Linked DNA regions of Homo sapiens: regions 2 and 3 are each linked to region 1. The links come from fine-mapping of genetic effects on gene expression. Tissue or cell type: whole blood. Region 1 holds a variant in brackets; each other region holds the start of a gene. All regions are shown on one strand. Distances are from middle to middle.

Evidence for each region. PIP is the estimated chance that this variant, and not a neighbour inherited with it, causes the effect.
Region 2: MIGA1 starts here. The variant in region 1 is fine-mapped to the expression of MIGA1 in whole blood (TOPMed, PIP 0.99).
Region 3: it holds the start of NEXN-AS1, and the variant in region 1 is fine-mapped to the expression of NEXN-AS1 in whole blood (TOPMed, PIP 0.94).

Annotation. Positions count from the first base shown.
Region 1 is chr1:77,855,782-77,858,527 of GRCh38, forward strand. All of the region lies in intron 8 of MIGA1 (mitoguardin 1), which reads left to right. Among named protein-coding and RNA genes, the nearest start is that of NEXN, 31 kb to the right of the region's middle. The variant C/A (reference allele first, on the strand shown) is at 1,314.
Region 2 is chr1:77,778,454-77,780,953 of GRCh38, forward strand. It overlaps MIGA1 (mitoguardin 1), which reads left to right and starts at 1,196. Exons shown (of 16, transcript NM_001416120.1): 1 at 1,196-1,283. It also overlaps the pseudogene RNA5SP21. RefSeq lists an enhancer at 1,083-1,172.
Region 3 is chr1:77,888,427-77,890,926 of GRCh38, forward strand. NEXN-AS1 (NEXN antisense RNA 1) reads right to left here and starts at 1,113. Exons shown (of 3, transcript NR_103535.1): 1 at 1,042-1,113; 2 at 1-842. NEXN (nexilin F-actin binding protein) reads left to right here and starts at 198. Exons shown (of 13, transcript NM_144573.4): 1 at 198-333. RefSeq lists an enhancer at 143-202 and a silencer at 443-582.

The DNA.
Region 1 (2,746 bases):
GAGCTTTCTAGACAACTTCTTAGGGTTTTCAAGGTAAACGATCATATTGACAGCAAACAGTGACAGTTTGACTTCCTCTTTACCGACGTGGATGCCCTTTATTTCTTTCTCCTGTCTGATTGCTCTGGCTAGGTCTTCCAGTACTATGTTGAAGAGGAGTGGTGAGAGTGGGCATCCTTGTCTTGTTCCCATTCTCAGAGGGAATGCTTTCAACTTTTCCCCATTCAGTATTATGTTGGCTGTGGGTTTGTCTTAGATGGCTTTCATTACACTAAGGTATGTCCCTTGTATGCCGATTTTTCTGAGAGTTCTAATCATAAAGGGATGCTGGATTTTGTCAAATGCTTTTTCTGCATCTATTGAGGTGATCGTGTGATTTTTGTTTTTAATTCTGTTTATGTGGTGTGTCACATTCATTGACTCACATATGTTAAACTGTCCCTGCATCCCTGGTATGAAACCCAGTTGATTGTGGTGGATTATCTTTTTGATACGTTGTTGGATTCAATTAGCTAGTGTTTTGTTAAGGATTTTAGCATCTATGTTCATCAAGGATATCGGTCTGTAGTTTTGTTTTTTGGTTACGTCCTTTCCTGGTTTTGGTATTAGGGTGATGCTGAATTAGGGAGGGTTCCTTCTATCTTGTGGAATAGTGTCAAAAGGATTAGTACCAATTCTTCTTTGAATGTCTGATAGAATTCTCCTGTGAATCCATCTGGTCCTGCACTTTTTTTTAATCGGTAATTTTTTAATTACCATTTCAGTCTTGCTGCTTGTTATTGGTCTGATCAAGGTATCTAATTCTTCCTGATTTAAGATAGGAAGGTTGTATTTTTCCAGGAATTTATCCATATCTTCTAGGTTTTCTAGTTTATGTGCGTAAAGGTGTTCATAGTAACCTTGAATGATCTTTTGTATTTCAGTGGTATCAGTTGTAATATTTCCTGTTTCTTTTCTTAGTGAGGTTATTGGGATTTTCTCTCATCTTTTCTTGGTTAATCTTGCTAAAGGTCTATCAATTTTATTTATCTTTTCAAAGAGCCAGCTTTTTGTTTCATTCCTCTTTTGTATTTTTTTTTGTTTCAATTTCATTTAGTTCTGCTCTGATCTTGGTTATTTCCTTTCTTCTTCTGGGTTTGGGTTTGGTTTATTCTTGTTTGTCTAGTTGCTTGAGGTATGACGTTAGATTGTCTGTTTGTGCTCTTTCAGACTTTTTGATGTAGGCGTTTAGGGCTATGAACTTTCCTCTTAGTACCACCTTAGCTGTATCCCAGAGGTTTTGATAGGTTGTGTCATTTTTGTCATTCAGTTCG[C/A]AGAATTTTTAAATTTCCATCGTGCTTTTGTTTTTGACCCAGTGCGCATTCAGGAGCAGGTTATTTGATTTCCATGTATTTGCATGGTTTTGAAGGTCCTTTTTGGAGTTGATTTCCAGTTTTATTCCACTGTGGTCTAAGAGAGTGCTTGACATAATTTCAGTTTTTAGTATTGAAATGCGAGGTACTATTACATTCACTCTGCTCTTTGTTGCCTGTGTACTTTGGTTTTTTTTTTTTTGTTTTTGCTTTGTAACTTGTATTGTATTGTATTGTATTTATGTATTTATTTTGTGACGGAGTTTCACTCTTGTTGCCCAGGCTGGTCTTGAACTCCTGACCTCAGGTGATCCGCCTGCCTCAGCCTCCCAAAGTGCTGGAAGGTGCTGGGATTGCGGGCATGAGCCACTGCACCTGGCCCCCCCTAATTTTTTTAATTAGAGGATGTGGTGGTGCGTACCTGTAGCCCCAGCTACTCGGGAGGCTGAGGCAGGAGGATCACTTGAGCCCAGGAGTTTGAGGCCGCAGAGTTATGATTGTGCCACTGCACTACAGCTTGGGTGACAGAGCGAGATCCTGTTTCTTCCAAACAAAACACTCTAGAAGTTTTCTAGAAGTTTTCTGGGTTGTTGTTTTTTTTTTTTTTTTTGCTTAGCTGGCTACTCTACAGTGTTTGCAATTGTTTTTTAATGAACTGTCAGAAGATTGGAATTTCATATGTAGAGTTGTTATGCTAGCCAAAAGCACGACTGTCTTTCAGTTATACAAAAGTTAATCAAAGCTACATATAAGGAAATATGTCTTAGAATAGCAACACTGAGCTTATTTTGTTGTTTTTGTACTAAGTTTTGCTTCATTATAATCATAGGTTATAATACTTGTAAGTAATCTATGGATGATAAAATTCTCCTCCTCTTTTTAAAAAATGCTTCTTCAGTTGTTCTTTTTGGTGAACTATAAGATACAGTATTGCTGGCCAGACGCGGTGGCTGACGCCTGAATGCCAGTACTTTGGGAGGCTGAGGCAGGCGGATCACTTGAGGCCAGTTCGAGACCAGCCTGGCCAACATGGCAAAACCCCATCTTTACTAAAAATACAAAAATTAGCTGGGTGTGGTGGTGCATGCCTGTAATCCCAACTACTCTGGAGGCTGAGGCAGGAGAATCGCTTTAACCTGGGCGATGGAGGCTGCATTGAGCCAAGATCCTGCCACTGTACTCCAGCCTGGGTGACAGTGAGACCCTGTCTCAAAAAAAAAAAAAGATACAGTATTGGTTTTCTGTATGTTCTGTGGATTTAAATAATTGGATTCAGAATGAACTAAGCTTGTTAAAAGTTTTACTCTTTTTAACAACTCTATTGAAGTAAAATCAATTCAGATTTTATTAGCTATAAAATCCTCTTGAATGGTTTTTATGGTTTAATCAAATTT
Region 2 (2,500 bases), 77 kb before region 1:
AAGTCTCAAGAGCTCCATTTACCCTATAAGTGCAAAATATTTTCACATAAAACCCAGTCTGTGGATCGTTAGTTATTATTAATCTAATAATATCATAAATTGGTACTACTATTCTATTTTCCATTTGGTTAAATGGGAATTTTGAAAACAGAATTATTTTGGCTTTTCACCACAAATATGCTCAGCAACTGGAATTCTTAAATCTGCAGTTTTTTTGTTTTGTTTTGTTTTGTTTTGTTTTTTGTTTTGAGACAGAGTCTCACTCTAGTCACCCAGGTTGGGGTGCAGTAGCACTATCTGGGCTCACACAACCTCCGCCTCCCGGGTTCAAGCGATTTTCCTGCCTCAGCCTCCCGAGTAGCTGGGATTACAGGCAGGTGCCTGGCTAATTTTTGTACTTTTAGTAGAGATGGGGTTTCGCCATGTTGGCCAGGCTGGTCTTGAACTCCTGACCTCAAGTGATCTGCCCGCCTTGGCCCGCCAAAGTGCTGGGATTACAGGCTTCAGCCACCGTGCCCCGCCTAAATCTGCAGTTCTGATGGAATGTTTTGACTGAAGACTGAACGTAGAAACAGTACCTTGGGTTTTGTTGTTGTTATTTTTTCCTAACCCGGCCCCCTATTAGTTTACTATGTATTAGAACCTGAGAGAGGTGACTACTCTGCCAATAAATTGCCACATTCAATATTCTTCGGTTGCCTAATTCAGTGGGAAACACAGAAAAAAAGGTAAAGAGGACATGAAATCAATAATAAATGCATCATCTATACCGGATTGGAATGCCTCTTAACACTCATTCATCTGAGGGCTGAGGGCCTGTGGTAGAAGTTCTTAATCTTGTTTTCAGGGTTTTGAAATTGTGTAACTTTTTTTTCTTTAATGTAATGAGCATGTGTATACACATTTTTTTTTTTCCAGGGGAAACCCTCCATAATTTTTACCAGATTGACAACCGTTCTAGATCCCCCGACAGGTTACGAACTACAATACTAGTTTTTTTTTTTTTTTTTTACCGGTTTGTAAAAGGATGCAATTCTTCGAATATAGTTTTTGCATCCACTTGACGAGGAAGGAGCCTCTACCCTAAACAAAAATGGCGGGAGCTGCTTCACACGTAGTCCCTCACGCAGAAAGCCTGGAAGGCCCCCTCCACTTTCTCTCCACCTTCGCACTCCTGACCCCGGAAGGACTCCGCCTTCTCCATGTCAGACTGCTGCTCAGCGCCAGGCATCAGCTGGGAAGCTGGCGTGGGCAGGCCAGCTGTACCTGGCCTGGAGCTCCAGGTACAGGGCCAGGGGCGGGGTGGGGTGGAGAGGCGGGCGGGAGGAAGCGGAGAGTTGAGCGGCCACGCAGTTGGGGCAGAGGCCTCGGGGCAGGGGTGGCGCGGACTCCATCGCTGGCGTTAGCTCTCGGAGTGCCAGGTGGAGCGGCGGAAAGCCAGAGGGTCTACGGCCGTGCCACCCTGAACACCCCCGACCTCGTCTCATCTCAGAAGCTAAGCAGGGTCGGGCCTGGTTAGTACTTGCATAGGAAAGCAGGAGGGTCCCCACGCCAGAGGGAGGCCTGCAAAGGAAGCGCGGAATTGGGATGGGCTCGCCACTGCTCTGAGCCAGAGGAAGGGTCTGGACGGCCGAGCTGGAGGGACCCCCTTTTCTGGTGTTCTTGGCAAAGAAAAAGGAAGACAGCAGAGGAGAGCTCCGCGAGGGGCTGCTGTGGGGTCGGGGGAGAGCGCGCTGGAGGTAGGGCAGCTGGTGAGGTCTCAGGTTCGGCTTGGATGCGGGTGGTTTTGAGCAGGGAGTGGCTTTTGGATGTGAAAGATTACTCTGCTTTGCAGGTGCTTTAAGAGAATAATTTAGCACGGGAGTATTGTGGTGTCAGGTCCTTCTGTAAAGTTGTTAAATTATCTATTTTCCAGAGGGAAGACTCAGCTTGTTTTTGCACAGGACTTTGAAACCTTTATTATTGTTGTTTTATTGTTGTTGTTATTGCAGCTAAACATGTTTGCTCTGTTCAAAGTGTCAGAGTTAGGTTATATAGATTTGTGCTTCACGTCAATTTTCTTTTTGATACTTCAGACTTTCCTTCCTGTTGGATTATAAAGTCAAAGTTGCAGGATAGAATTTTAAGATGTCTAAGAAACTGTTTATGACACTTATTTTTAATTCCCCAGTAGTTGGAATGTAGAGGAGCAAGTAATATCACACAGGACAATATTTTTGGTTATGTTTTATAGATTCCGTCTATAAATTTGAATAATCATGAAACCCCCTTCATGTTTATTTTTATTATGCTTCTGAAAGCAAATGAAATGACTAGTTTTTTGTTTTTTTTTCTTTAGTTTTTCAATGAATAATGATTAGGTTTGGAATCAACTTCCTCAGTAATATTAAATGAAAAAGAATGAGGTAGTTAGAATGCAAAAATAGAGGTTTGTCATAATATTTTTTCTTTTTTCTTTTTTTTTTTTTTTTGAGGCGGAGTCTGGCTCTGTCGCCCAGGC
Region 3 (2,500 bases), 33 kb after region 1:
TCCCCTGCTTTTCTCCTCAACTCTCCACCCCCACTCCGGGTGATAACGGCGGAGGTGGGGGGTTGGGGGAACTGGCCTTGTGTTTTGGAACAGCTGCAGCCGGCGCTGGGCCCGCCTGGAATGCGGGAACAGGCTGCACACCAGGACTTTTATGGAAACTTGCTGCTGGAGACGGCGGCGGCGGCGGCGGCAGCGGCAGCCAGAGGACTCCCAGCGGCTGGAGCAGAAGTGTTAGCGGCCAGAGCTCCCAGACCCCTACCCACAGCCAGGCGGGACGCGCACAGTCCCTCCACGCGGAAAGAAGTACCTTCGCCGGTCACCGGCTCCTGCAGGGTGAGAAGAGTTGGGGGAACGTGGGCTGGGGGGAGTGGAGACGGAGGTGTCGGGTCCCCTGGTGGGGGCGGGGGCGGGAACGGCGGCTGCAGAGAGGCGCTCGGGGTCTGCGGCTTCTGGCCGTGCTCCGCTGCAGCTCCGGAGGGCGCCGGGCGCCATACAGCTGTGGTCCGCGCTGGCCCCGGCCCGGGCGAACCCTGCCTTGGAGCCGCATCCTGCGGGCTCGGCGGGGTGCCTACCAGGGGCTGCCCCAGGGTCTGAAAGTGTCGGCCGGCCTTGGGCTTCTGGTTGCAATGTCTTTGCCCTGCTCCCCTGCGCCTTGTCGGCTGAGTTTCGGGTGCGTTCCCTACTGTAGGGAGGGAGCCCTCTGTGAGCGGAGTGGGTGCCGATCCCTCGGCTGAACCCTTGGGGTCCTTAGGGAAGTTCAGTGCCGTCCCCCACCACTTGCCCCAGCCGCGGTCTCCGTCTCTGCCAGCAGTGCCAGTTAAGAAATCCTTTCTGATCGGTCTCTGTGGAAGATGGGGAGAAATATGATTTAACAGCCTATTACTCCCCCCCCACACCCCCGCATATCCCCCCACTCCTGTCTCCAACCCTTTTTTTTTTTTTTTTCGTGATTCTGCCCGAGGTGGGATGCTGGGGGTTGAGCAACTAGGGCTGGAAGTTTACGAAGTTTACGTAGTTTAAGTGAGTGAAGAATGTAGTCACCTCTTGAGAACTCCCTTTGCCTATATGCTTTTGAAAACGCCAAACCATTCCAGCTGTTTGTAAATTGTGAAACGTTCTACAAATGCATTAGCATTGGCATTTATAAAGAAAATGACGAAGTTGAGAGGTTATAGTTGGTTACTGCAGTGACTTAGAGATGCTCATTTTATAGTTATTAAAGCACAACGTGAACCAAGTTGGCAGAGAGATAACAAGGTAAAAATAGCATAAGGATATGTCCTAACAAAATGTCCTTGGTGAAGACACAGGTAGAGAAAAGAAGCCATAATAAAGAAATTAGTTCCCTGACCAAAACAACGGGAATATCATTCATCGTTAAATTTTGTTAATGAATTCATGTAGCAGCGGCCCATTGGCCTTCGAGTCACAACATAACTATGTCTTAGGTAATGTGATTAAATAAACTTAAGTATTTATACTTAAGTTCATATCTTAGTCACACGTTATTTATATCTTAGTCACACGTTATTGAGTGGACCACATAATTTCCCCCGCTAAACATTATCCTTTACAGGTTAAACTGCTGCAGTTAGAAAACTTTGTCTCAAATTCTTTTGAGTTTGGGGTATTGTTAAGAAAAAATGCATAATTAATCAAATGAGAGAAAGGTTTTTTGGGGGGAGGTATAATTTGTATAAGTAAACTTTGATTAACCAATGTAGCTGTTTAAGTTTCTTCTTCCTTACAATTAACACCGTATTTTTGCAGATATTTTATATTTTGACTAATGCTTCTGAGGAACAATTTAAAGAAAAATGCATGCAATTATGTAGTTTATCTGCAATTCCCTTAAAGAATTCTAAGCTAAAACCACAACAAAATTATTTTAAATCCAGTTTTCCTCATCATAGTTACAATGTAATCCAGTTTTAATAAAAGATTCATATTTTAAAATCCATTTTCAATTGAAATGTAATGAATAGCAATTGTTCCTGCTCACCTTAAAATGGAATTTGTGCTATTTTTGAAAATTTGACATGTAAGGCTGATCATTGTCAAAATGTATGTCATCTTGAGATGACTATATTTAGCATCAACAAAGGAATGCATTATCTAGGTTTTTGAACAGTCTTTTTCCCCTGAAATTTCACTTGAAGTATTTAGGTTAGGGTTTCATTTTTGAGCAGAATAAAAACTAAATATGCATATTTGGAAGACATTAATTGGGGATTCAGATTGCTTAGAATCTGAGCGGCCTATAATGACATACTTCATTTATTAAAAAAAATACCTGTTATCTTTGAAATACCCTAAAAGACAAAAAAAAGGGGGATTATTTAAATATGAGAGTTGTGCACACCTAAAAGAAAGAAAATAATGCAGTGAATGTGGAAAAGTATGTAACAGACAGGTAAAAGTCTAAACGTTTTTATAGAAGAGAGGACTGTTATTTTATAGTTATGTAGGCCACACACACACAGAACATCTTGGTAGTTTA